Linked DNA regions of Homo sapiens: region 2 is linked to region 1. A link means that fine-mapping ties the variant in region 1 to the expression of a gene that starts in the linked region. Tissue or cell type: visceral fat. Region 1 holds a variant in brackets; the other region holds the start of a gene. All regions are shown on one strand. Distances are from middle to middle. Region 1 overlaps RGS22 (regulator of G protein signaling 22). Region 2 holds the start of RGS22 (regulator of G protein signaling 22).

The links. PIP is the estimated chance that this variant, and not a neighbour inherited with it, causes the effect. A credible set is the group of variants that fine-mapping cannot tell apart.
Region 2: it holds the start of RGS22, and the variant in region 1 is the best candidate, but not a certain one, in a credible set for the expression of RGS22 in visceral fat (GTEx, PIP 0.52).

The regions. Positions count from the first base shown.
Region 1 is chr8:100,008,673-100,023,902 of GRCh38, forward strand. All of the region lies in intron 14 of RGS22 (regulator of G protein signaling 22), which reads right to left. Among named protein-coding and RNA genes, the nearest start is that of SNORD77B, 12 kb to the left of the region's middle. The variant C/CT (reference allele first, on the strand shown) is at 7,699.
Region 2 is chr8:100,098,338-100,113,567 of GRCh38, forward strand. It overlaps RGS22 (regulator of G protein signaling 22), which reads right to left and starts at 7,712. Exons shown (of 28, transcript NM_015668.5): 1 at 7,560-7,712; 2 at 7,037-7,065. The coding sequence starts at 7,584.

The DNA.
Region 1 (15,230 bases):
AGCCCACGTGATATTTTTCTTGAAAATATGGGTAAAACTACTTAACACGAAGCAATGCATCTATTCGAAAGACTTTGTTTTTCCTTTTGTTTTCCAATTTCTTCATCAGTAATTAGTCAATTTTTCTCAGATTACAAAAATCTGAGGAAGCACTAAATATTATTATGGTAAATTTGAGTTTATGTGCCTCTTTTTTTTCCTTTATCTTCACAACATTTCTAAAACACTTGTGTTACTTTCCAAAGTGGCTTGAAATACTTTTTTTTGGAAACAAGTGGCAAGAATACACTAGGACTAAAAAGCTGGCTATTAGTCTTCTGGAGACCCAACAGACTACCAGCCCTACCAAATTGAGCTGCAGAGTTCTTAAGACTGTTGCTAATTACCCCTTTCTGCCATTAAGTCTTTCCATCTGGTATCCAATGCTGTGGAAGACATAAAGAAAAGCATAAGAGCGAATGGAGGCCAGGTGCAGTGGCTCATGCCTGCAATCCCAGCACTTTGGGAGGCCAAGGCGGGTGGATCGCTTGAGGTCAGGAGTTCAAGATGAGCCTGGCCAATATGGTGAACCCCCATCTCTACTAAAAATACAAAAATTAGCCAGGCGTGATGGTGCACACCTGTAATCACAGCTACTTAGGAGGTTGAGGCAGAAGTAATTGCTTGAACCCGGGCGGCAGAGATTGCGGTGGCCCAAGATCAAGATCATGCCACTGCACTCCAGCCTGGGTGACAAAGTGAGACTCCACCTCAAAAAAAAAAAAAAAAAAAAGAGTGAATGGAAAGATATACATAGAACCTCCAGCAAACCTGCCACAAATATCTGTTCCATTCTACTAATTGTCATGTCTCTCAATAATAGTTATGTATATCTGAGAAGCAATTTAATAACATTTTGTTTAAAAAATGTTTGCATACTGGATATGTCATGCCCTGACATTTTAAATCAAGTTTTACTAAAAATCTCTAGTTAACTTATACTTTATTTCAATTTTATTTCATATACTTAGAATTTGAAACTGATAATATCTAGATCAACTCAGAATAGACAGATACAGATATAAATTTGTACCAAACAGCAAGTAATAGTCTTATTTAAAATAATCTTTTAAGACTTAAAGGGTCCATGTTAACAACAGAAGCATTTACTGAGTACTCCATCTACTGCATCTTAGACACCTGGCTAGGTGCTATGTATGTAAAGATTAATGAACAAGAGTCAATGCCTATTCTGAAGAAGCCAATTTGGTGGTGACATGGAGATGAATATCAATGGTTATAATACAGGACGGTAAGTGCTATAAGAGAGGTATGTATTATAAATAAGATCTTTAATGATTCTTTTAAGCTCATCTCCCATTAATCATCTTTCAAATTTTACATTCAAATACAAAGTTTCTATAATTTCCCTAAGTCTTGCTATTTTGCCATTTCATACCATTGCACATATTGTTCCTTCCATCTTGGATGTCTACACTACCCCACATACCTTGTCTGCTTGATAAACTAATTTAGAGTTTAAAACCAACATAAGGCCAGGCACAGTGGCTCACACCTGTAATCCCAGCACTTTGGGAGGCCGAGGCGGGCACATCACGAGGTCAAGAGATCGAGACCATCCTGGCCAACATGGTGAAACCCCATCTCTACCAAAAATACACAAATTAGCTGGGCACGGTGGTGGGCGCCTGTAGTCCCAGCTACTCAGGAGGCTGAGGCATGAAAATCGCTTGAACCCAGGAGGCGGAGGTTGCAGTGAGCCAAGATTGTGCCACTGCACTGCAGCCTGGCAACAGAGTGAGACTCCGTCTAAAAAAATAAAAAACCAACATGGATTTCCCCTCCTCTAGGAAGCTTTCACTCACATTCTCCCCCAACAATCACAATTTCTGCTGCTATGCCTGTCACTCTATAATGCAGTTATGTATTTATGTGTCTTCTCTTCTAGACTGAGATCCTTGAGGGCAAAGACTGTAGCTTATTCACTGGTGTATCTCCAATTCCTAGAACTGTTCTTGGCAGACAGTAGATGCCATAAACATTTATTAAATTTTCCAAATCCCTAGAAAAGACTCATTTATGTATTGGACTAGGGAAGGAAAGAATTCTAGAAACTCTTCAGAGAGAAGATAATTCTTTTTTTTTTTTTTTTAAAGAGATGGGGTCTTGCTATGTTGCTCAGGCTAATCTCGAACTCCTGGGCTCAAGCAATCTGCCCACCTTGACATCCCAAAGAGCTGGAATTAACAGGTGTGAGCCACCATGCCTGGCCTCCAGAAGATAACTGTTAAGCTGAATCTCTAAAGATAAGTTGGAGTCAATAATCGCACAATAGAGGAGGGTTGATGAAAGACGGCCCAAGCAGAAGCAAAACACAGGTCAATGCATGGAGGCCTATGGGAGCTTTAAAACCTATGGAGGGATTTTAGGCTTCAAGTAGGTAACACTGGCTAAAGGAAAGAGGTGAATAAGAGAAGATACTTTAAAGGGAGGCAGAGACCAGAGCATGAATATGATCTTTTATCCTTTGTTAAGGAATTTGAATTTTTACTTAAAGATATAATGGGGAATCTTTGAAGGATTTTAACTGAGGAGTGACGTCATTGGATGTGATAGTTTGAGTAAGATCAATATTTGAGGCAGTTTGGAAGTTATTTCAATAGCTAGACAAGAAATTATATGCCACCTTCACCTCTTGCTTGCTTTTTTGCAGTAGCCTCTTAACTGGTCTTCCCAGACTCCTCTTGGCTTTCTTACAGTCTATTCTTACCACAGCAGACAGAAAAATCCTTTTGTGCAGCAGTCCTCTGCTCAAACTCTCTAGCAGCTTCCCATCTCACACATAATAAAAGTCAAAATCCTTATAATTACCTATAAATGGAGTTTTTGGAAGTCTCGCAATGATGAGGAGACAAGGATTATAGTTCAGGACCTGTCAGTGGGGAAGTCCCTGTAAACATCCTAAGCTCTCAAAACACCCTGAGAGCAGGAATGGACTAGATACTGACTCCAGCCTCGAGTTTTTAATGTGCCAAAAGAAAATAACTGCCAACATATAATTCTATGTCTAGCAAAAACACCCTTCCAAAATAAAAACAAAATAAAGATGTTATAAATCAGCAGACAAAAAAAGAGACTTCATCACCAGCAGACCTGTACTAAATGAAATATTAAATGGAGGCTCTAGACAAAAGCAGGATGGACTCAAAAACAATGGAAAGTACAAATATGTGGGTAAATATCAATAAATACTTATTGCAAAATAAAATGATAATAACGAATAAAGTCAGAAGAAATAGTAAAAGAACCTGAGAAATAGAAGTCAGAGAGATAAGAGGTAAACCAAGTCAGAGTAATGCTACAGAAGCCAAATGAAGAGTTAGCTTAAAGACAGGAGACAGCAATAAATGGTGTTAATAATATATATTATATATATATATGTAAAGACATTAAAGCAACCAAAGAATCAAAGGTGCTGGTTAAAGTGCAATTGAAATGCTCTACTGTGAGGTCCATGACACGCAGGAAAGCAAACGAGGTCAAAATCAGGGTAGTGATACAGTAATTTGCAGGGTAGAGTATCAAAGAACCAGTGATTAAGATAAGGGAGAAGGGCATGTAGAGTAGTTAAAAGGGAATACTAAAGTTCAGAATATAATAGGCATTCAATAGATATTTGCTGAGTATATAAATAAGAGATGAGTGGCTTAAAGAGCAACAGTGATTTGAAAGGGAAATTTCACAGGTCAAGAATTTAAAGCTGGCAGGGTGTGGTAGCTCATTCCTGTAGTTTCAACATTTTGGGAGGCCAAGGTGGGAGAATCACTTGAGGCCAGGAGTTCGAGATTACAGTGAAATATGATGGTGCCACCGTACTCCAGACTGGGTGACAAGAGTGAGGAGAGAGACAAAGAGGGAGAGACAGTGAGAGAGAGAGAAAGAAAAGAAAGAAACAGAGAGAGAGAGAGAGTTTTTGAAAGTAAACTAAAATAATGTCTTAGGTAAATTACGAAACTAAAGATTAAAATTATCAAATTAACAACATTTAAAAATGTAGGATTTGCTCCAATAATTCCAAATTCACTTCAAGGAAAAGAAAATTTAACAGCCTAAATTACTTACATTAAAAATCAGTAGTCAGGCTAAATTAGGGGAGAAATATTTTTTTGAAATATGCTTTTTTCTTTTGCAATTCAAAACTATAGTTTAAAAAGATCTGATGTGCTACATATCAAATTCTCATATGTTGAGCATTCTGGTTAGTAAAAGAAAAGTTCTCATATAGAAATCAGGATAACGCCTTTGATTTTTTTTTTTTTTTTTTTTTTTTTGAGACGGAGTCAGTCTCGCTTTATCACCCAGGCTGGAGTGCAGTGGCGTAATCTCGGCTCACTGCAAGCTCCGCCTCTTGGGTTCATGCCATTCTCCTGCTTCAGCCTCCCGAGTAGCTGGGACTACAGGTGTCCACCACCACGCCCAGCTAATTTTTTGTATTTTTAGTAGAGATGGGGTTTCACCATGTTAGCCAGGATGGTCTCAAAATCCTGACCTCGTGATCCGCCCGCCTCGGCCTCCCAAAGTGCTTGGATTACAGGTGTAAGCCATCGCGCCTGGCCTGATTTCTTTTTTTAAATGAGAACAGAGAAGAGGGTAAAGTAGGAAAGAAGTTGAAATGGTGGCTAGGATAACAATGACAGCTGTTAGGATTGTCAGCCTTTGGTGGATGCCTACATCTATTTCCCTTCTCTTTTACTCTCAGTCTTGCCTTTACTCTTTCTGTTTTAAGATTTAGTGCTACTCTAAGTTCCATGAGATTATCTACGTGTGATTTAGATAGTCTACTACTATATCTATACTATGGTGGACACTTCATGATGCCCTGTTGAAGCTAAGTTTCTGTATATGATTGTATCCAATTGCCTTGGGCTTTTTACCTTCTTAAATTTTGCTTTATGGTTTTCTTCAAAATAAGTTTCTCTTTATTTTACCACTTACCATATTAGTAGAACAACTTCCTCTCTCTGACCATACTTTTCATCTATTTGTATCTCCTCACCAAGCTTTTCTTCACCTTCAGCACAATCTGAAGGTTATTCTCGTCCTCTAAATAAATCATGCACCAGCTGCTTTATCTTACTTTCTTACACAATTGGGACTGAGAACTGTCCATTATTTCAACTATACTCTTACCAACATCCCTAATTCCTCCCCACTGTATCCTCAAGTTCCTACTAAAAACATAATGACTGACTCCATTATAGACTTCAAAAAAAACTTAGCTGCAATCAAAAAGTTTGTTACATTTTTGCTTATTTCTAATCAATGCCATTTCCCATTTTAAAACTGCCATCCTCTTTAATGCTCCCAACTGTATTCTTACACTTCTTCACTTTCAGTAGACTTTATCTTCCACATAACTGGGAAAAACCACTGGTATAAATGCCCTCAACTTTCCTCTCAAGAGCTCTCTTTTAAATCTTTTTGTTTCTCTGATGTCTCAAAGACATCTTTCCAATCCTAAGCCATTCAGGTGTGCTCGACCATGTTCCTCCAGAGCCTGTAACACCAATTATTTTCTTAGTGCCTTGTTTCTTTAATCTACCTCTCCACTGATTCCATTTCCTTCTTTATGCTACAAAGTTGTTGAAATCTAGTGCCTCTCTCATTCTAAAACGTTTTTCCTGACTCTGTTTTGCCACCTACTTCTTACACTACTTCTCTCTTCCCTCTCTCTACAAGTCTCCATAGTCACTCCTCAATCTATGGAAGTCTGGCTTCCATGCCAATGACAATGAACTCAAAGATCACTAAAAACCACATAATCGCCAATTCAATAGCTTCTTTCCTTAATCTTCATTCAACCTGATCCCTTATGCAGCTTTAATACTGCTTATTATCTCCTCTCTCCTTGACTCTCTTTCCTCTGACTTCGCCAACCCTTTCTCTTGATTCTATGCCAATTTCCGCTTCTTCTCAGGCTCTTTGCTGATTCCTTTTCCTCCATTCCTCCCTTAAAAGATGACACTCACTAAAGTTCTATGCTCAACTACACCTTCTCAGTTCATGCCCCTACAGTTTCTCACATGAGCCAAGCACTCCCTCACAGGATTTTTGTACTCTGCACTCTATCCCTTCTATGCTCTCTACCCTCATCTTCTTTTCCCCTTTCACTGAGCTTCTATTCATCCTAAAGACTCAGCTTCCTTGGCTCCTGAAGTCTGGCTTAAGAATCCATCCTGTGTGTTCCCATGGACCCTGTACTTTTATGTTTTTCCCATTGGACCCTACATTCTACAAAGACAGAGACTGGGTCTACTTTGTTTATTACTGTATCCCTAGCATCTGGCATAATGTGAAATTTAGAATGAGTGGATGAATGGAAGACTTCATCTAGCCCCAAAAATTTAACAATCAATGTGGAAGAACTCCATATATTAATACTAATAGTTTTAGACCTGATTTCTTCCCTGAACTCAAAACCTTTGCTTCTAGCAGCCTACTTTGTTATAGCTACATGAATATCTTCCAGACCCTCAATGACTCAATAATATAGCAAATTATCCTTTCCTAACTTCTAAAGCCTCTCCCTTCCTCCTGTGTTTCCAGTTTTCTTTTCTTTTCTTTCTTTCTTTCTTCTTGAGATGGAGTCTTGCTTTGTCACCCAGGCTGGAGTGCAGTGGCATGATCTCAACTCACTGCAACCTCTGCCTGCCAGGTTCAAGCGATTCTTGTGTGTCAGCCTCCTGAGTAGCTGGGACCACAGGCATTCACCACCACGCCAGGCTAATTTTTGTATTTTTCGTAGAGACAGGGTTTCACCATGTCAGCCAGGCTGGTCTTGAGCTCCTGATCTCAAGTAATCTGCCTGCCTTGGCCTCCCAAAGTTCTGGGATTACAAGTGTGAGCCACCATGCCTGGCCTCCAGTTTTCATTAATAATATACCATTCATAGTATAATTTTTGACTCTTCCCTGCACTCCCCTTTTTTATTCTCTAATGCAAATCCTATGAATTTAATCTCTCCAATGAAACAAGGAGAAACTAACAAAAACAAATATCAGGAGGAAATAAGTAGCATAACTTCCATCTCAAGAAACATCATAAAACTCAGTTTTCTGACCAAGCAAGGCCAGACCTTTCCCAGGTTACTGTCTGCTACCTTTCTTCCTGACCTCACACTCATATTTTGCTCTAGCCACGGGGATTCATGCATATTATTTAGCTACAGAGTCTGCAGTCTCTAGGAGCTATATAATTGGGACAGTCATGTGTCCCTACTCTGGTCTAAGCCTACTGTCTTGGCATAATTATTAATAGTTTCATTCTGAAAAGTATCTGGGTTTAGATGATAAATTATATGGTTCCTCTATATTTAATTGTCATCAGTTAGATAAATTCTGAAGTTTCTCTAAAACAAGACTCCTAGAAACACTTGACACATATTTAAAGCTGAAAATAACGCAAAGAAAAGCAGATGTTAGGTGATAAGAAACAGACATTTGTCTAATTCTCAGTCATATTAATTGAATAGCTATACTCGAATGCCAACATCTCAAACCAAGAATATACAATTTAGAACTTGGGTTGACGCTTCATAGACTTCCCTGTTAAAAATAAATAAACTAGAGAGCAGAGGGGAGGAAAAAAGAAATGAACTAAACGATTGCACCTAAATGTAGGTATTAATTTGCCCTTCCA[C/CT]TTTTTTTTCTTTTGCTTCCTCACCACGTTTATTGAATTATTGTCACCCAAACAATTTCTCTTTGTTCAAGAATATCAACCCCCATCTGACAACCAGCATAATCCTTAAGAATAATACACTCTCCTGCTGGGTGTGGTGACTCACACCTGTAACCCCAGCACTTTGGGAGGCTGAGGCAGGCAGATCACGAGGTCAGGAGATCGAGACCATCCTGGCTAACATGGTGAAACCCTGTCTCTACTAAAAATACAAAAAATTAGCCGGGCATGGTGGCAGGCGCCTGTAGTCCCAGCTGCTCAGGAGGCTGAGGTAGGAGAATGGCGTGAACCCGGGAGGCGGAGCTTGCAGTGAGCCAAGATTGGGCCACTGCATTCCAGCCTGGGCGACAGAGCAAGACTCCGTCTCAAAAAAATAAGTAAATTAATAATAATATACCTAATGCTAAATGACAAGTTACTGGGTTCAGCACACCAACATGGCACATGTATACATATGTAACTAACCTGCACGTTGTGCACATGTAACCTAAAACTTAAAGTATAATTTAAATAAATAAATATTAATAATAATAATACACTCTCCCTACATCCCTGATTCCTTACCAGTCTTTTTTTTTTTTTTTTTTTTTTTTTTTTTTTTTTTTTTAAACAGGGGCTTGCTCTGTCACCCACGCTGAAGGACAGTGGTGTGATCTTGGCTCACTGAAACCTCTGCCTCCTGGGCTCAAGCAATCCTCTTGTCAACTTTCATCACCATGCTCCACTAATTTTTAAAAAATATTTTGTAGAGACAAGGTCTCATTATATTGCCCAGGCTGGTCTCAAACTCCTAGGCTCAAGTGATCCTTCCCTCTTGGCTTCTTGGCCTCCCAAAGTACTGGGATTACAAGCATGAGCCACCATGCCCAGTCCTTTATTGAAAAATCACAGAACTGGAAGCATTAAAAAGGGGCTTGTGAGGTCATCCAATCCATGGCATCCCAAGCCTACATTACACACATTTGTTGTCTTTTGTTGAAGTTGTCTCTGCTGTTCCTCACCTCCCCAGGATGGTAGGGACACAGGTGGTTAAGAGAGTAAGGATGAGAAAACTGAATTCAGTTTGTCAATCCTTTATTAGCCCATACAATAAAATTATAGTACATTTAAACTGAATTATGGAACTAAAATCTGAAGATGTCTTTCTAATAATCCAAGGCAATCTGTAAGTGGATAACTAACAACTGAGTATATATATATATAGCAAATACAAGATATTGTAATTGTATATTTAAAACAAAAGTTTAAAAAGCTAAACAACACACTTAAAATCTTTATAAAGATGATAAAATCATTTTAAGTTGATATAAATTGACTTTAAGATGAAACGTAAAGATTATACTATATGATATATAAATAATATAGTCTGATTATGGGTTAGAAACATTGTTTAAATATCCAAATCATTTGCTTTTTTACTGGCCGCCCAGTTCTTCCTTTCTAGCCACAGAGTAAATAACAATGTAGCTCATGTTAGAGAAGAAAATGCTCCCTTCATATTCCAGTCAGCTACTCTGATTCACATTCAAGCAGAGATTCACTCACACACAGCTGTGGCCAACATGAGTCCAATTTAAACATTAACCTATGATGCTTTAACAACCCAGCAGGAAAGTTTTTGAGAAGGGATACAAGCACTGCCTGTCTGTGATCAAACTGCCTGGCACTGCACACAACATGGCTCTAAGCCTCATCTCTCCTGGAGACACTCAAAGGTTATGTAATCAGGAAATGCACAATGTGCTGCTTTCCCCGCACCTCTCTACACCTGTGCCTGTGACTCACTTTCTTGGCATCTGTATCAAAAAAAAAAAAAAAAAGTAATGCCTGCCCCTAAAAAATCTTTTACAGTACTGAAATTCTGGGAGTTAATTTTCTAGCCTAACTGAACTGTCAATATTACTCGAGAGTTAACAAGACTAGCAAGAAAAAAGATGTAGGATGGATACCATGAGACAGAAGGAAGAGCTGAATTGGAGAGCAGAAAAAAGAATGGAGAAAAAAATTAGAATAAATGAAGACACACACACACACACACAAAAGAGGGTAGGGGAAGAAAATCTATATTTTGATTAATGTTTTGCTTTCTAAATAGCGTTAAAATGAAGAACAATGTTTAATTTATTCTTAATACATATTAATTTGCTGACATTGTTGGGGGAAAAAGTGAACAAATATTCCTGTTTGCATCTTCAAGGAAATCTCAGCTGCTTCATTAATTAGAGACAATATCCTCTATATAATACCTGCATTGTACTATTAATACACATGAGATAGCTCAAACGATTTAAAATACGACATTTCCCATTGCAATTTATATTTTTCCAACATTATGATATTTTTCATGCAAGATTTCCGCACCACTTAATAGTTTCCAAAATCATTTTGAAATTGTGTGTTTATAAGCATATTCTTGGATAGAAGTGAATCCCCATCTCCTTTCAAATGTATCATAATGCATGCCAGACTTACTTTTCCCACATTAATGTTTTCTTATTGAAGATAAGGTCTAGATAAACATACCTGAGAAATGAAAATTGTGTGTTTATTGAATTTATTGTTTTTAACAATGTCAAAAGCAAAAAAAAAAAAATGGAAATGTTTTCCACAACTGTCTGTACTATTTGGATTTCTCTTTGTATCAAAGGCTAAATGATGACAGCTATGGGATTAGATTCCAATTAGCATACTGTAGAAGCACCCAGCAAAGTATTCTCACTGTGCCAAAGGTGAGCACAGGCTTTGGGAAGGCATCTTTTCCATAAGTAGGGGCCATTTGATGAGCTACAGCTTGACACTTATCTGCGTTCCAATGAAAACAAGAACAATTTCTCTGCAGCCTTAAAAGGCAAAGTCAGAAATAATACCAAATGTTGTAACACATGTGTTGATTTGTTATGTTACATTTCAGCTGTTAGTTATGTTAATGGAACAGTTTCACATACTTCGTTTTGATGTATTTATTTTAATGATCATGTGTATGTATCTTGCTATGATTGCCTGGTAACACTGATTACCTGATGTTCTGCTGTCACCACCAGGCCAGGACTGGAAGTAAGAAAGTGAAATGTAAAACTTTGGAACTGTATGACTTAAAATGAGTCCCTCAGTACATAAAGAATAAAATGTATTCAAAACCTATGTACTGTGAGATCTTAATACTAGTTGACAGCACATCTCGTAGAGCGTATCACCAGATTAACTAAAATTGATGACATTTTAAAAGTAGACTTCCAATATCGTATTCCAGAGATTAGGAGAAAACATTCATGCTTCAGCATTTTGTATCACTAATAAGTCCCTTTTTTTTAGACCCATTACTCGACTAAAAAGTAAAAGAGGGAATTCTAATCATGTAATTAGTAAGGCAGCAGAAGGCATTTTAATATGTATCTTTCACATTCTTCTCACAATTTTCCAAGATGCTCACCAAGACAGTATAAGAACTATAAAACCATCTGCTGTTGCAAAAAAAGTACTTTTTTTTTTTTTTAGATGGAGTTTCACTCTTGTTGCCCAGGCTGGAGTGCAATGGTGCAATCTCGGCTCACCGCAACCTCCGTCTCCCAGGTTCAAGCAATTCTCCTGCCTCAGCCTCCTGAGTAGCTGGAATTACAGGCACCTGCCACCACGCCCAGCTAATTTTGTATTTTTAGTAGCAATGAAGTTTCTCCATGTTGGTCAGGCTGGTCTCTAACTCCCGAACTCAGGTGATCCACCCGCCTCGGCCTCCCAAAGTGCTGGGATTACAGGTGTGAGCCACCACGCCCGGCCGCAATTTTCTTCTCCTTACCATCAGGTAGCACTAAGGTTCTGCCTGATGGACTGACAGGGTGGTATTAGCAAAGACCTAGCCAGCCGCTAGGAAAAAGAGATATTCCACAAAAGCCATGGCACTATTTCATACACTCTAAAGACAAAAGAAGAAAAAGCCTTTGGCTACTGAAATATACAAAGCTTTTTCATAAGCTCCTTCATGAAGTTCACAGTAAACTGTGCAGGACCTGGTGATTCTGGAGGAGAGATTATGTGCCTTCTTTGGTAAGCATAAGTGAGTGGTTCATAAGCACTCTCCAAAAGGTGGAAGAAATTTTTTAAAGGTGAAGAGTCAGGATCTCCAGCTGTAACATTAGAGAAAAAATGGAGAGGATTCACAGTGATGCTTTTCTTGTTATTACTTCTCTTCCTCCCTTATAAGCAATGGTTTACTGGAGCCAGCTTGTACCAGCTCACAAGAGCCGATTCATAAACATTCAGGAATTTTGTGAGTCAGTTGTTAAACTCTGTCATTACCAAAAATTAAATCACATAAACTTACAATTAAAGAAATTATGATTCAAGTCCAAAGGCCTCAGGAAAAAAAGAAGTTATATTAAAAACAAAAATAATGACTACTCAAAACTCATTACTTCTTGTTGATTTTACTGTTTTGCGATTAATATTACCCATGGTCTTGAGGTGTATCTGTATGGGGGAAATATTATATGATGGGGTGCTACTGCACATCTCTTCCCAACTCTGCATTCAGTGACGTCACTTTGGCAGCTTGAAATCATCCATGGTGAGAGTATACCCAGAGATCAGCAAATGCTACAAATCAGGGCTGCTTTTTCCCCTAGAGATCTGGTTGTTAAACATTTCTCATCATAGCACTGATTATAAGGCAAATATACTTCTCTTCCTATCATGATCACTAAAGAAAGAGAAATAAAGTAGGAAAAAACAAATGACACCAGCTACTTCAAATATTTACTGGCAGCAAAGCTACATACCAGTATATACCAAGTCACACCAGAATATGCCAATTTATAACAGTTTACTTACATACTCTGTTTAACAGACATCCATTTAAAAAAATATACAGTAAAGGCCCTGTTAATAGTTAGAGTAAAGCTGAACCAGAAGAGGAGGGTCAACAGCTTTTCTTTAAAATTGTTTGTTTACATTCTGAATAGTCCTTATTTAGAAAAGGTCAAAACTAAGCTTCAAATATTACATTTATCCTCAGTCTGATAAATTAATCAGAAGAGGTAAGAGTTTAGTGGGGAAAATCTTATTAGCTTGGCCTGATGAGAAAGTACAAGGAACATATTTGAAGAGGAAACATTAAAGCATTATGAGAAATAGAAATGGTACTAATGGATCTTGATTCAGTGTCTGGACCCCAAAGAGACCAAAATCACTTCACAGATCATCTTAAACACAACAGAACAGATGTCCACTAAACTGTAACAACAACAAAGAAACCATATTGCTGTATGTGATGGCAAATAGCAAAGTAACATGGGATCTGCTCAACTGGGCTCAATAACTCTATGCTTGGACTTTATATAAAACAATGAGATGAACTGTGCTCCAAGAAGCTAAGGGTGAAAAAAAAAAAAAGAGTCCCCAGAGGTGTTTATAAAAGAAATATAAATGCTGTGATACAGGATACTTTCAGAAATCACAAAATATTTACTTCAGCAAAAAGAGAAGTCTGTTTTCATAACCATTCACAGCTCTAGCAGGCATAGAACATTATTATCTGAGTTCATATGCGGCAGAAAAAGAAAATAACAAGCAAGTTCAAGCAATCCAATCTTTTTTTCTGCAAAAGGAGGAAAAAATGATGATTTTTAATGACCTCTCATATCCCACTAGGAGCTCAAAAACATTACTGAGGAGCTATGCCGAGAGCGACTAAATTACAGATGGAGCTTTTCACAGATGGATTTTCATGTGAAGGACCTTGGGTTTTTCAAACAGGAATCTTAAAGATGGGATCTAGGGATTGCAACGTCTTGATACCAAGAGGCAAACTACTGCAGAGATCAACACAAGATGGACTTGTACGAAAAAAGATAATGATGACAAACTAGAATTTTTGCCAATTGCTCAGACCCTACTAAAGAGAATTCAAAGCAAATGAGAGCCTAAGAAAATGCCAATAGGATAAAACAGTAAAACAATTTGAATCATTTGGGACAGAGTAAAAAATCAGAAGGGGAAAATAGAACGTGTTAAGAAAAGACGAGAACAAACCAGGGACAAAAAAGGCTAGGTTTTTAAGATAGATTTGGGTCATTGCTTAAGACATTTTAAGTAAAATCAGTTGAGTGCATGATGAAATAAAATAAACAAGCACACAGAAAAAAAAGTTATTACTATGCAGTTTAAGGCAATCTAAGGAACAAATAAAGGTTTTATTTTATAAATTTTTGGATTTGTTTTTTAAAAAACCTTTAACTGACAAAAGCAAGATATACATTTAAACTAATGGAATTATTTAACTTCTATTAATAAATAATTTCTTGGAAATCAGTGAACAAAAAAATTCAATTAAATTAATTAATTAATTTATTTATTTATTTTTAAATAGGGTCTCACTATGTTACCCAGGTTGGAGTGCAGTGGCGCAGTCTCAGCTGACTGCAACCTCCTAGGCTCAAGCCTAGCCTCCCGAGTAGCTGGGACTACAGGTGCACACCACCAAACCAGGCTAATTTTTGTATTTTTTTTGTAGAGATAGGGTTTTGTTATGCTGCCCAGGCTGGTCTCGAACTCCTAGGCTCAAGTGATCTACGTGCCTTGGCCTCCCAAAATGCTGAGATAAATAATTCAATTTTAAAAACATGATTATATTAAAATTTCTGGCTTGGGAAAAAAAACAAACCTGTTTCACCAGTATGATAATCTATGCTAACAAAGCACACAGGACTGATACATGAAACCAGAGTATCAAGTGATTGCTGTACAATGAAAAATGAGAAAATCAACCATCATTAAGGTTGTAGGTCTATGTTTACCAGCACACCATCTTGGAAAACAAGTTTACATAGTCAGAATAAGTGAAGGTAACTGTATGAACCCTATGAATATTCTCTCCATCAAAATCTTTCAGGCTGACTAGATACAAGGAGCAGACAGCTTAGGACAGTACTTCAAGGGCATGTCAAGGTCTGCCTCTGAGACACTACACCTTCTGGGATGCCACTGCCAAACAATGTCTCTTCATGAGTGAAACATTCTTTCTTTTTCTGTTTTTCTAAGAGCTAGGGTCTCACTCTGTTGCCAATGCCAGACTGCAGCTGGAATACACTGGTGCACTCATAGCTCACTGCAGCCTCCAATTCCTGGGCTCAAGTGATCTTCCTGTTTCAGCCTCCCAAGTAGCTGGGACTACAAGCACGGGCCACCACACCTGGCTAATTTTTTTAATTTTTTGTAGAAATAGGGCCTCACCACGTTGTTCATGCTGATCTTGAACTCCTGGGGTCAAGTGATCTTCCCAGCTCAGCCTCCCAAATGCTGGGATTATAGGTGCGAGCCACTGTGCCTGGCCTGGAAAATTCTTTCTTTACATGTGCTGGCATCTTCATTACAAATCTTGCAGGCCTGTGAAGCCTTTTTGTCTCTAGTCAGCTGCTCATATCTGTTCTGATTTATTACACATTCATTTCCTAGTTCAAATTTCAAAAAGCAACCATATTTTTAGGTTCCTTGGGTGAAGT
Region 2 (15,230 bases), 90 kb after region 1:
AACGAATAATACTAATTAAAAGAAGAGATATTGTCAAAAGAGAAAAGGGTCAGAAAAAGAGAATGCAAGGTGAGACAAGCTCCACAACACATCTTGTTGAAAGTATAGCTTGCCTAGATCAAGGCATTTTTGAAATTTGAAAACCAAAAGCCCGCATATCAGATCCCCACTGGTTTGCAAAATTATATTTTCTTAGAAACAAAGTCTATGAAGGAGGAAGATATTAAAGTGGTTCATGCAATGAGGAGCAAAAGTATGGACTCTGCTTTTATCCTCCAAAGGTTATCATCACAGATTACATCAGTATCTATCCAGAAGCACTTTTCCATCGGGTTTCTGTTCTCTTCTCTCTTCTTCCCTCTTTCTTCCTTCTTCTTCTCTTCTATTCTCTTTTCTCTTCCCTTTCCTTCTCTCTGTCTCTCTCTCTCTCAACAAGTACCCAAAAGGCTTGAGAAGGTGAAGGAAGCTCTGGATGCTCCCCTGCCCCTGACCCCCTTTTATTTTTTTATTTATTTTATTATTTTATTTATTTTATTTTATTTTATTTTATTTTATTTTATTTTATTTTATTTTATTTTATTTTATTTTATTTATTTTTTAATGAAGTCTCGCTCTGTCACCAGGCTGGAGTGCAGTGGCAAAATCTTGGCTCACTGCAACCTCCACCTCCCAGGTTCAAGCGATTATCCTGGCTCAGCCTCCTGAGTAGCTGGGACTACAGGTGCATGCCACCAAGCCCAGCTAGTTTTTGTATTTTTAGTAGAGACGGGGTTTCACCATGTTGGCCAGGATGGTCTGAATCTCCTGACTTCATGATCCACCCGCCTCGGCCTCTCAAAGTGCTGGGATTACAGGTGTGAGCCATTGCGCCTGGCCCAGACTCCCTTTTATCCAATCAATTTTATCCAATCCAATACTTCGAATTATACCTACTAGGCTTAAGACAATCCATTAGGCACAAACACCCTAAGGCTTTCTCCTTGTACAAAGATACTTACAACTCAATAAACTCATTTAAAGCAGAGAGTATCTCACACCCTTGGTCACCTTGTCTCCCATTCTATACTTTACAGGTAAAAAGAGGATGTGGCAAGCTTCTCTAAATCCCAATGTACTTTTAATTCAAACCTCACACTTAAACTATAAACTGCTTATCCTTTTACTGTTTCATATTAAAGGCCATCTCTCTGATCAGAAGGTATGCTACTTTGGGGACTAATGACAATGTTTGTCCCCAGTAGTGTCTAATATGGCCATACCTTGAAAAAGTTGCTTAATGATATACTTATTTACCAACTTATCAATGGGACTGTTAACAGTTTCTGTAGTTCCAAAAAAGCATCAGAGAATTTGATTCCTACTCAGAGTAAAGGATTCCATAGAGATGAAAGAATTCCAAATAGCATAACACTTTACAAAGGACCTCTGGGACCTGTCTTAGTTTCCTAAAGACTTGTTCACAACACTTCTGGCCCCTAGCTCTGCAACCTCTTAAAGAAACAAGAACAGGAGAACGTAGGGGTAGTACTTAGGTCTAGCCCTATCTTCCAGTGTTTCCATATGAAGCTGCCTAGTGTGTCAGCCCCAGTAGGCTCTCACTGTTCATTTAACCCAATTATGTGTAATTTAACATATTTTGTTTGAAAAAAACCACCAAGTGGTCATTAATTGCCAAGTAATTAGTCTTGTTTAGGAGGACTGGAATTATGGACCTTTATTCTATACAGTTGTCCCTTGGTATCCACAGGGGATTGGTTCCAGGACCCCCCACAGACACTGAAATCTGGGGATGTTCAAGTCCCTCATATAAAATGGCATAGTATTTGCATATAACCTACACCCAACCTCCTATGTACTTTAAATCAACTCTAGATTTCTTACAATACCTAATACAATGTAAATGTTATGTAAATGGTTGTTATCCTATATTTTTAAAGTTTGTATTTTTTTCTGATTTTTTTTTTTTTTTTGAGACGTAGTCTCATTCTGTCACCGAGGCTGGAGTGCAATGGCATGATCTGGGCTCACTGCAACCTCCACCTCCTGGGTTCAAGCAATTCTCCTGCTTCAGCCTCCCAAGTAGCTGGTACTACAGGCATGTGCCATCACGTCCAGCTAATTTTTGTATTTTTGGTAGAGACGCAGTTTCACCATGTTGGCCAGGCTGGTCTCGAACTCCTGACCTCAGGTGATCTGCCTGCGACGGCCTCCCAAAGTGCTGGGGTTACAGGTGTGAGCCATTGCACCTGGCCTTTTTCTGAATATTTTCAATCCAAGTTTGGGTGAATCCACAGATGTGGAATCCATGGATATGGAGAGTCAACTATGTTACTGTATGTTAAAATAATGAGAATGTCTTCATGCTTGGGAAATACCCTATGTTTATTATAATTTCATTCAACCTGTAAAAATAACAAAATAGAAATTTGAACAGACTAAAAATTAGTTAAAAATGAATACCACTTTTAACAACTAAAATACAAGTAAATACTGCTTAAAGCTAAAGTTTATCTTAATTTGATAGTAAGATTACAAGGTAGTCTCTTTTTTAACTTTTCCTTTTTTAAACAGCTTTTAATCCAGTTTTAACGTTAATAAAACTGTGGGTTTTCTAAATCAGAAAACCTTCAACAAAATAGATCATTACACTACAATGTTTTTACTCCATAAAGAATTTTCTTTCCTGGATTCCATTTTTTGATGGAAGACTTGATAAAGACTTTTTTTGAAGTCTGGCACACTTACTTGCATAGTTGCAAACTAACTACTTTTAAGGCACAAGAAAAAGATATTATTTTGAATGTAAAAGTCAGGCTCTTAAATCTTCGCTATTAATGCACTCTATTTTAATGATAAAAAAATTTAAGAGTCATTCTCACTTTAAACTTTCTGAATGTGTACCTTACACCTTACTTTAGCTGTAAGTTTAAAGTGACAGTGACTCCTAAATTTCTTTTTTTTTTTTTTGAGATGGAGTCTCGCTCTGTTGCCCAGGCTGGAGTGTGGTGGCGTGATCTCAGCTCGCTGCAACCTCTGCCTCCTGGATTCAAGCGATTCTCCTGCCTCACCCTCCCGAGTTGCTGGGACTACAGGCATGCCCAGCTAATTTTTTTTTTTTTTTTTTTTTTGGTATTTTTAGTAGAGACAAGGTTTCACTGTGTTAACCAGGATGGTCTCGATCTCCTGACTTCATGATCCGCCCACCTTGACCTCCCAAAGTGCTGAGATTACAAGCATGAGCCACTGCGCCCAGCCCTAAATTTTAATGTGTAAATTTTGTAATTCACTCTCACTTTAAACTTTCTCAATGTGTATCTTACACCTAGGTAAAAAATTAAAAATATATACAAGGTATGTGTCCCTAACAAACAAATAATTTATTCTAAATGAGTTATTCTATCCTTTGAGAATGAAGACCCCATGTTGAGGTTCAAATATTATTTTGCAGATGTCTATAACAGCATGGTACTTTTAGATCCACTGAGAAAATACAATATGAAAAAAAAGCTAGTATGAACACAGGAGCACGAAACCAAAAAAAAAAACTACTTAAATAAAATAATAAAATATTTTTCTCATGTAATCAAAAGCAGTTGTAATCATAAGACATTAATCATAAGGCATTGTGGCTTCCCAAATATCAGGGACCCAGGCCCCTCTGATCTTATGTCTCCACCATCCTCAAGATGCCACATCCATCTCATGATTTAAGATGACTGCTTTAGCTCCAGCATCACAACTGTATTCCAGCTGGCAGAAAAGAAGAAAAAGGGCTCATTCTTTCCTTCTACACTTATGTAAGTATTAAAGTTAGAATAGCCCAGCTTCTAACTGTGGCTCAACTAATTACTAGCTGTGTGACCTAAGGGTCCATTATTTGATCTCTATAAACATCAGCTCTCCAGAGAAGTAGGACACAACACTTCTGCCTACATCGTATTGGCCAGAATTTGGTTCTGTGACCATGTTTGGCTGCAAGGGAAACTAGAAAATGTAGTCTTAATTTGGGATAGCAATGGGTCTGATATCTACCATGGAAAGGAGAGAATGGAGTTTGGGGAACTACAGGTCCGTGACACATTTTTCCTAAGAATACGTAATTTATTAATGAAAACAATACTTTCACACTTTTGAAAAACAGGGGTAAATACATGTGCAAGACATGTTAATTATTTAATCTATAGACAATACTTGGTTGAGCATATGAATTTGAGAATCTGGTTATAAACTGCTCTCAGCTAAAAGATGCTCAGAGCTCACAGGCAGTCTGGATGATGTTAGGTTGGAAAGGCTTCATGGAGGAGATTAGCTGGGCCTTGAAGAATGTGCAAGATTGTGAAATAGATGGGGAAGGGCAACTGAGACAAAATTTGACAGCAAAGGCAAGGAGACAAGTGGGGTATAGTTTGGCTGGGGCAGGAGGCATGTGGATGTACTTTATAAATCAAAAACAGTAAGAATGTTGTCTTTATCACAGAGAAAAGCATTGGGAGGTAAGGTTAAAGAAGGCTGAAAAGTTATAGAAAAGGTTTTGAAGGCTAAAGCAAAGCATTTGACATTTTGGCTTTACCAGTTATGAGATATGTGGCCTCAGGCCCAGTTAGTTAACCACTGTGAACTTCGACCTCCTCTTCTGTGAAATGTAGGCAGTAATAACCACCTAATAGGGTTGTTTTGAGACTAAATACTAGCATGTTGTTAGCATTCAATAAATACTAGCTATTAATAAAAGCTCTGAGCAAGCCAGTAACAAGGTAATGTTTTAAAAAATTAATAGCAATCTGATAGCCAGGGTAAGAGTGATAGGAGAAGGAAAAATCTAAAGGTAGACAGAGCAAAGGAATAGGAAGTAATCTAATACAACTGATGCTCAGGAGCTTGAATTTTATGCTTTAGACAAAGAAAAACTGGAGTTGGCAGAAGGAATATTGGAGGCAATGGTATCAGTTAGGATTACTACCAAAGTCCAGACCCAGGGTGGGGGCCTGAAATGAGACAGTAGTTGTGTGGATGGAGAAAAAGATCTGGCTATGAAAGGAGCTTGGTAAATGATTGCAGGCAGGGGATGAAGAAAAGGGAAGAAAGTCTTTGATGTGAGTGACTGAATGGCCAGTGGCACCACAAACCAAAATAAGAAGTGGAGGAAAGACAGCATAGTGTGGAGGGGCCTGGGGAGAAAAGTTCAGTTTAGACTGTTGACACGGACATTCAGATGATAAAGAGTCCCAATAACCGCTGGATATACAGAGCTGGCATTAAAAGTGGTGTCTGGACTGGAGGTATGGAGATGTGGAAGTCCCACGAAACAGGGGTACTGAAGCTACAGGAGGAGAAGAGGAGCTCACCCAGAGAAAGCCCAGAGAACAGAATCCTGAAGGTCAATACTTTCATGAGAAAAGAAAAAGAGAAGCCAGAAAGGGGGAATAATAATGAAAGATAAGAGAACTCGGAGACAGTGAAACCAAGCCAAGAGAAAGGGAATGCCTAGAGTCTTCAGGCTATCATGAGTTCAAGGATGGGGCCAACACCTAAAATAGTGAACTGTTCAAACAGTAAGTGGCGTGTTGTTGAGTAGTCTTCAGCAGCATGGGAAAAGATTTGCTGGCTTCAGAAATGCTCACCTCCTGCTGGAACTAAGAGTAAATTCAGGAAGGCCTGGAGCAGCTTAAAGAAATTTCCCATTAAAAGCAGAGCTCTGGGCCTGGAACAGTGGCTCGGGCCTGTAATCCCAGCACTTTGGGAGGCCGAGGTGGGTGGATTGCTTGAGCCCAGGAATTCGAGACTGGCCTGGGCAACATGGTGAAACTCTGTCTCTACAAAAAATATAAAAATTAGCCAGGCGTGCTGGCACGTGCCTATAGGGACAGTGACTCAGATGGCTGAGACAGGAAGATCACCTAAGCCCAGGGAAGTCAGGGCTGCAGTGAGTTGTGATGGGGCCACTACACTCCAGCCTGGGTGACAGAGAGAGACCCTGTCTCAAAATATGTGCGTGTGTGTGTGTGTGTGTGTGTGTGTGTGTGTATTTTTTTTTTTCTTAAAGCAGAGCTCTGTCAACATGGCCAGAAGATGGAAGGAATTTCTGACTTGTTCTGTGTACCTCTACCTTCAGTGGCTGTGTGTGTGTATGTGTGTATGTGTAGATGTGTGTGTGTCTGTCTCTCCCAGCAATGGACCAGAGCTCTGGAAAGGTGAATGTGAAAGCCACCCGCGCACACAGGCTTAGCCCTTTCTTCTCTCTTAGTCCCTGCTAGACTGTGAACTTCTTGAGACTTAACCTCAGCATCTAGGACCACACTATGACTATACAATCATGCATGTTTGTTGATTGAAAGCCAAAAGCAAATAAGATAATTAGCCAACAAGAGAAGTAAGTGCTGGAAGACATAAATAAATAATAGAAGTGGTTAGAGCTCTTGGAATCAGACTCAGATCTTGGTAGGAATTAGGCTCTGACAGCTCCTATTTGTCTGTGTAACCTCAGGCAAGTTCCTGAAACACTGTATACAATGGGAATTACAATGGAACCCAGCCTAAATGTAGCACTCACCTAAATGACAATGTATAGGATATATTTAGCAAATACTTTTATTACTTCACCTCTCTAGAAGTCTGAAATGGGAGTATTTAGTACATTTGTAAAGGAATGATAAATTGACCACTCTTTATCCATCAACGCCATTTACTTATGTTTACTCCAACCAGGAAATGCACAGCCACATCATAATACAGCCATGGAGATAAAACTTTCCTCTCATGGAGTCATTAAAGAGTTTAGAGAAATTAAATGAGGCCATTTATGTGAAAGAACTTTAATGATGAACAGCATCCACCATACAAATTAATTGGCCCCTTCTTAAAATTATGTGCCAGATAAAGAATTTAAAAAGATCTTGTACACAGTTATTACAATTGTTACTAAACCAAAACTCTGGCAAAAAGGAGGAAAGAAAACACACAGCTTTCTTCTATGATCTAATATTTGCTATTTTTTTAAAGGCCAAAGAAAAAAATAGCCCCTTGAAATGATACTTACAAATTCTTCTTCTGTAATAGTTGGTGGCTCTGAAACAAGACAAAATATTACATTATCTCCCTCAAATCTGATTTCCTTTGAGTAAATGAAATCATGGGAGACAGCACCTAGCCCTACGTTATACACAGGCAAACGTAGCACATTTCTGGCCCTCTGTTCATTCTCTGTACATGGCTTGCATTTTAAGTTGGAATTCAAGGTGGAAGTGGGAAGGAAAGGCCTCTGGAATCCTGCCTGGTCACTAATTCACTGTGACCCAGGAGTTACCCTTCTTCATAGACGGAACCCTCTATTATTCTACGTACAATATGCAGAATTAAGCGAGATAACGTGGTGCCAGCATAAACCGGCGAGGACGTGAAATTCGTCATAAAATCCAACAGGAGGGCAGTGAAGCCCTTTTTTCTCATGTCTGGGAGCGGGGATACCGCTAGGAGGGCAGGAGGTAAAGTCCAGAGGCTGGCGCGTGGTGCGGCCCCGACGCCGCGGGCTGATCCTCTGTCCCTGTGGGGCCGCCACCTACCCGCGGTGAGCCTCTTCTCGGGCATGCCGTCCCCGCTGCCCGCGCCTGGAGCCCGCGCGGGCCGTCAGGGCCCTAGCGCGCGGGTCCAGCGCGGGTCAGGGCCTGAGCGACGCGGCGACGGCGCGCGGGCTCCGGAGCTACGCTGGCTAGCGTGGCCGGCGCCGCGCCGGGGTTGCTATGGAGCTTAGACAATACGGCCGCCCAGGGAGGCCGAGGCCGGCCACTCAGGTGCCTTTCGGGGTTCCCAAGCTGCGACGGGAACACCCCCGCCGCCCCCTACCCTCCCTTCCTCCTCCTCTGGGCAGGGACCAGCGCGGCGAACGAAGGCTGGGGGCGGACGCGCGTGTGGACCCCCAGCGCGGTCACCCGGAAGGGGCGCCCTGGAGACGCCTGTGTCCCTCGAGACTCCACTGGCAGCGAATTCGTTACTGTGGTGACCGCTGCTCAGGTCCGTTATTCCTCCACTACAGCCCGCCAGCAACGGCCAGGGAAACGCGGTGCTCCACGGGAGGGAGAGGCCGCGGGCATGCGGGGCGCCAGGCGGCCAGGACGGCTGGTCCCGGGAAGCGGAGGAAGCAGGGAAGTCAGGCCTCCAGTTTTCCTCATTCCTCAGGAGGCCGGCAACACGTAGCTCTTGATCTCCATCACAGTTGTATGAAATGCTTGTGTAAAAAGTTAAATAATTCGCGGCCTATAGGAACCGCAAACTTCCCCAACACGTGTGTGCCCATCAGGACTGCTGCATTTTCAAGATAGCTAGGCTTAAAAATTACCCGAGGAGGCCTCATGTTCACCTAACGTGGTACCTTCGTCTGTTAGGTTACTCAAGACTCAAGCCAGAAACCTAGGAGCTTTTCCCTGAAACTTACTGCCCGACCCCCAAACGGTCTTATTCAGTCAAGCACTAGGTCCTCTTTATTCTGCCTTAGTGTTTCTGAAATCTGGAGTCTCCTTTGCGCTCCTGCTGAACAGTTGTAAAAACTTTTTAATGGTTTTTCAGTCTTTGCTTCCAGTGGAGTTCAGCTTAAGCCCATTCTCCATGATGAATGCAAAATCATCCATCTGAACGCAAATCTGACCTGTTTAAAACCTTCGGTGGCTTTACATTTGCCTCCTACATTGTAGGAATACTCCAAGGCTGGCAGGGGCCCCACAGGTATATGAATGCTTAACAAAAGAATAAGACAATTAGTGCTTGTATTGCAAGGAAACGTAACTCCCATCTAGTTGTATTCATTGCCTTTTCCCTATTACATAGAAAAAGACAAAAATAAACCACTATCTTGGCCAGACAAAATTAGAGGACCAAATGAAGTGACGGGATACTGGCAGAAGATAATGGAGAGGTGGGAGGTGGGGGGTTGGGGGACAAATCACAAAGGGCTTTGTGGGCCCTTGGTAAGGACTCCAGGTTTCATTCTGAGTGAAATGCAAACCATAGCAGAGTTTGAACAGAGAAATGACATGACTTTACTTCTATTTGAAAGAATCGCTCTGGGTGCTGTCTAGAGAATATATTAATATTAGCATGACTCGAAGCGGGCAAGAGCTAATCGTAGCTCAGACCGGGTGGTTCAGAACAAGCAGTACAGGTTTCAGATAGATTCTGCAGACATTTTAACAGTAGACCCAAGAGGATTTCCTGACAAGTTGGACATGGGAGTAAAACAGAGTAGTTGAGAATGACTCCAGATTTGGTCTGAACAGCCAGAAAAGTTTAGCTGCCATCAACAGAGTTGGGGAAAGCTGTGAGTGGACCACATTGAGAGGGAGAGTTTAAGAAGTCTATTAGCCAAAACCAAGTTGAAAAACATGCTTCAGGATATCATCCAGGAGAACATCACCAACCTAGCAAGACAGGCCAACATTGAAATTCAGGAAATGCAGAGAACCCCAGGAAGATACTCCATAAAAAGATCAACCCCAAGACACATAATCGTCAGATGCTCCAAGGTCAAAATGTTAGAAAAAATGTTCAGGGCAGCCAGAGAGAAAGGCCAGGTCACCTACAAAGGGAAGCCCCTCAGACTATCAGCGGACGTCTCGGTGGAAACTTTACAAGTCAGAAGAAATTGGGGGCCAATATCCGGCATTCTCAACCGAATTTCCAACCCAGAATTTCATATCCAGCCAAAGTAAGCTTCATAAGTGAAGAAGTAATAAGATCCTCTTCAGACAAGCAAATGCTGAGGGAATTTGTCACCGCCAAACCTGCCTTGCAAGAGCTGAAGGAAACACTAAATATGGAAAGGAAAAACCATTAGTAGCCAGTAAAAAAACAAACAAGAAACACCAAATGAAGCACACAGACCAGTGACACTATGAAGCAACCACATAAACAAGTCTGCAAAATAACCAGCTACCTTTATGAAGACAGGATCAAATCCACACATAACAATACTAACCTTAAATGTAAATGGCTAAATGCCCCAATTAAAAGACACAGAATGGCAAGCTGGATAAAGAACCAAGACCCAGATTGCTGGCAAGATGGCCGAATAGGAACAGCTCTGGTCTGTGCTTCCAGTGAGATTGACACAGAAGGAGGGTGATTTCTGCATTTCCAACTGAGGTACCCAGTTCATCTCATTGGGACTGGTTGGACAGTGGATGCAGCCCACGGAGGGCAAGCCAAAGCAGGGTGGGGCGTCACCTCACCCGGGAAGTGCAAGGGGTCGGAGAATTTTCTCCCCCAACCAAGGGAAGCTGTGAGGGACTGAGCCTGAGGAACTATGGCACAGATACTGTGCTTGTCCCATGGTATTCGCGACCCGCAAACCAGGAGATTCCCTCCAGTGCCTACCCGACCAGGGCCCTGGGTTTCAAGCACAAAACTGGGCGGCCATTTGGGGAGACACCAAACTAGCTGTAGGAGTTCTTTTTTTTCATACCCCAGTGGCACCTGGAACGCCAGTGAGACAGAACCGTTCACTCCCCTGGAAAGGGGTGCTGAAGCCAGGGAACCAAGTGGTCTGGCTTGGGGGTCCCACCCCCACAGAGCCCAACAAACTAAGATCCAGTGGCTTGAAATTCTTGCTGCCAGCACAGCAGCAGTCTGAGATAGACCTGGGACACTCAAGCTTGGTGGGGGGAGGGGCATCCGCCATTGCTGAGGCTTGAGTAGGTGGTTTTCTGCTCCCAGTGTAAACAAAGCTACTGGGAAGCTCAAACTGGGTGGATCCCACTGCAGCTCAGAAAGGCTGCTGTGGCCAGACTGCCAGATTTCCCTTCTCTGGGCAGGGCATCTCTGAAAAAAGGCAGCAGTCCCAGTCAGGGACTTACAGATAAAACCCCCATCTCCCTGGGACAGAGCACCTGGGGAAAGGGGCGGCTGTGGGCACAGCTTCAGCAGACTTAAATGTCCCTGCCTGACATCTCTGAAGAGAGCAAAAGACCTCCCAGCACAGCATTCCAGCTCAGCTAAGGGTCAGACTGCCTCTTCAAGTGTATCCTGACTGGGAGACACGTCCCAGTACGGCCGACAGACACCTCATACAGGAGAGCTCTGGCTGGCATACAGCAGGTGCCCCTCTGGGACGAAGCTTCCAGAGGAAAGGTCAGGTAGCAATCTTTGCTGTTCTGCAGCCTCCGCTGGTGATACCCAGGCAAACAGGGTCAGGAGTGGACCTCCAGCAAACCAGCAGGCTTGCAGTAGAGGGGCCTGTCAGAAGGAAAACTAACAGAAAGAAATAGCACATCCACTCAAAGACCCCATATGAAGGTCACCAACATCAAAGACCAAAGGTAGATAAATCCACAAAGATGGGGAAAAACCAGCACAAAAAGGCTGAAAATTCCAAAAACCAGAACGTCTCTTCTCCTATAAAAGATCACAACTCCTTGCCAGGAAGGGAACAAAACTGGATGGAGAAAGTTTGACGAATTGACAGAAGTAGGCTTCAGAAGGTGAGTAATAACGAACTCCTCCGAGCTAAAGGAGCATGTTCTAACCCAATGCAAGGAAGCTAAGAACCTTGAAAAAAGGTTAGACAAATTGCTAACTAGAATAACGAGTGTAGAGAAGAACATAAATGACCTGATGTAGCTGAAAAACACAGCATGAGAACTTCATGAAGCATACACAAGTTTCAATAGCCGAATCGATCAAGCAGAAGAAAGGATATCAGTGACTGAAGATAAACTTAATGAAATAAAGAGAGAAAACAAGATTAGAGAAAAAAGAATAAAAAGGAGTGAACAAAGGCTCCAAGAAATATATGTGAAAAGACCAAATCCACGTTTGATTGGTGTACCTGACAGTGAGGAGGCGAATTGAACCAAGTTCAATTCTCAAACCAAGATCAGGATATTATCCAAGAGAACTTCCCCAACCTAGCAAGACAGGCCAACATTCAAATTCAGGAAATACAGAGAACACCATGAAGGTACTCCTCGAGAAGAACAACCCTAAGACACATAATCATCAGATTTGCCAATGTTGAAATAAAGGAAAAAATGTTAAGGGCAGAGAGAAAGGTGGGGTTACGTACAAAGGGAAGCCCATCAGACTAACAGCAGAGCTCTCTGCAGAAACCCTACAAGCCAGAAGAGAGTAGGGGCCAATATTCAACATGCTTAAAGAAAAGAATTTTCAACCCACAGTTTCATATCCAGCCAAACTAAGCTTCTTAGGGAAGGATAAATAAAATCCTTTATAGACAAGCAAATGCTGAGAGATTTTGTCACCACCAGGCCTGCCTTACAAGAGAAGGAAGCACTGAACATGGAAAGGAACAACCAGTACCAGCCACTGCAAAAACATACCAAACTGTAAAGAACATTGACACTTTGAAGAAACTGCATCAACTAATGGCCAAAACAACCAGCTAACATCATAATGACAGGATCAAATTCACACATAACAATATTAACCTTAAATGTAAATGGGCTAAATTCCCCAGTTAAAAGACACAGACTGGCAAATTGGATAGAATCAAGACCCATCAGTGTGCTGTATTCAGGAGACCCATCTCACATGCAAAGACACATATAGGCTCAAAATAAAGGGATGGAGGAATATTTACCAAGGAAATGGAAAGAAAAAAAAAAAAGCAGGAGTTGCAATCCTTATCTCTGCTAGAACAGACTTTAGACCAACAAAGATCAAAAGAGACAAAGAAGGGCATTACATAACGGTAAAAGGATCAATGCAGCAAGAAGAGCTAACTATCCTAAATATATATGCACCCAATACAGGAGCATCCAGATTCAGAAAGCAAGTTCTTAGAGACCCACAAAGAGACTTAGACTCCCACATAATAATAGTGGGAGACTTTAACACAACATATCAATGTGTCAGAAAATTAACACGGATATTCAGGACTTCAACTCAGCTCTGGACCAAGCAGACCTAATAGACATCTACAGCACTCTCCACCCAAGATCAACAGAATATACGTTGTTCTCAGCATCTCATTGCACTTATTCTAAAATTGACCACATAATTGGAAGTAAAACACTCCTGAGGAAATGTAGAGAACAGAAATCATAACAAACAGTCTCTCAGATCACAGTGCAATCAAACTAGAACTTAGGATTTAAAAACTCACTCAAAACCACACAACTACATGGAAACTGAACAACCTGCTCCTAAATGACCACTAGGTAAATAACAAAATGAAGGCAGAAATAAAGATGTTCTTTGAAACCAATGAGAATGAAGACACAACAAACCAGGATCTCTGGACACATTTAGAGCAGTGTGTAAAGGGAAATTTATAGCACTAAATGTCCACAAGAGAAAACAGGAAAGATCTAAAATTGACACCCTAAAATCAAAATGAAAAGAACTAGAGAAGCAACAGCAAACAAATTCAAAATCTAGCAGAAGACAAGAAATAACTGAGATCAGAGCAGAACTGAAGGAGATAGAGACATGAAAAACCCTTCAAAAAATTAGTGAATCCAGGAGCTGGTTTTTTGAAAAGATCAACAAAGTAGATAGACCACTAGCCAGACTAATAAAGAAGAAAAGAGAGAAGAATCAAATAGATGCAATAAAAAAATGATAAAGGGGATATCACCACTGATCCCACAGAAATACAAACTACCATTAGAGAATACTATAAACACCTCTACGCAAATAAACTAGAAAATCTAGAAGAAAATAAATTCCTGGACACATACACTCTCCTAAGTCCAAACCAGGAATAAGTCAAATCCCTGAATAGACCAATAACAACTTCTGAAATTGAGGCAGTAATTAATAGCCTACAAACCAAAAAAAGTCCAGGACCAGACAGATTCACAGCTGAATTCTGCCAGAGGTACAAAGAGGAGCTGGTACCATTCCTTCTGAAACTATTCCAAACAATAGAAAAAGAGCAAATCTTCCCTAACCCATTTTATGAGGCCAGCATCATCCTGATACCACAACCTGGCAGACACAACAAAAAAAGAAAATTTCAGGCAATATCCCTGATGAACATCGATGCAAAAATCCTCAATAAAATACTGCCAAACCAAATCCAGCAGCACATCAAAAAGCTTATCCACCACGATCAAGTCAGCTTCCTACCTGGGATGCAAGCCTGGTTCAACATACGCAAATCAATAAACGTAATCCATCACATAAACAGAAACAATCACAAAAACCACATGATTATCCCAATAGATGCAGAAAAGTCCTTCAACAAAATTCAACACCCCTTCATGCTAAAAACTCTCAATAAACTGGGTATCAATGGAACGTATCTCAAAATAATAAGAGCTATTTATGACAAACCCACAGCCAATATCATACTGAATGGGCAAAAACTGGAAGCATTCCCTTTGAAAACCAGCACAAGACAAGAATGCCCTCTCTCACCATTCCTATTCAACATAGTATTGGAAGTTCTGGCCAGGGCCATCAGGCAAGAGAAAGAAATAAAGGGTATTCAAATAGGAAGAGAGGAAGTCAAATCGTCTCTATTTGCAGATGACATGATTGTATATTTAGAAAACCCCATAGTCACAATGCAAAATCTCCTTAAGCTGATAAGCAACTTCAGCAGTCTCAGAATACAATATCAATGTGCAAAAATCACAAGCATTCCTATGCACCAATAACAGACAAACAGAGAGCCAACTCATGAGTGAACTCCTATTCACAATTGCTGCTAAGAGAATAAAATGCCAAGGAACATAACTTACAAGGGATGTGAAGAACCTCTTCAAGGAGAACTACAAACCACTGCTCAAGGAAGTAAGAAAGGACCCAAACAAATGGAAAAACATTCTATGCTCATGGATAGGAAGAATCAATATCGTGAAAATGGCCATACTGTCCAAAGTAATGTATAGATTCAATGCTATACCCATCAAGCTACCACTGACTTTCTTCACAGAATTGGAAAAAACTACTTTAAAGTTCATATGGAACCAAAAAAGGGCCCGCATAGCCAAGACAATCTTGGGCAAGAAGAACAAAGCTGGAGATACCACGCTACTTGACTTCACACTATACTACAAGGCTACAGTAACCAAAACAGCATAGTACTGGTACCAAAACAGATACATAGACCAAAGGAACAGAACAGAGGCCTCAGAAATAACACCACACATCTACAACCATCTGATCTTTGACAAATCTGACACAAACAAGGAATGGGGAAAAGAATTCCCTATTTAATAAATGTTGTTGGGAAAACTGGCTAGCCATATGCAGAAAACTGAAACTGGACCCCTTCC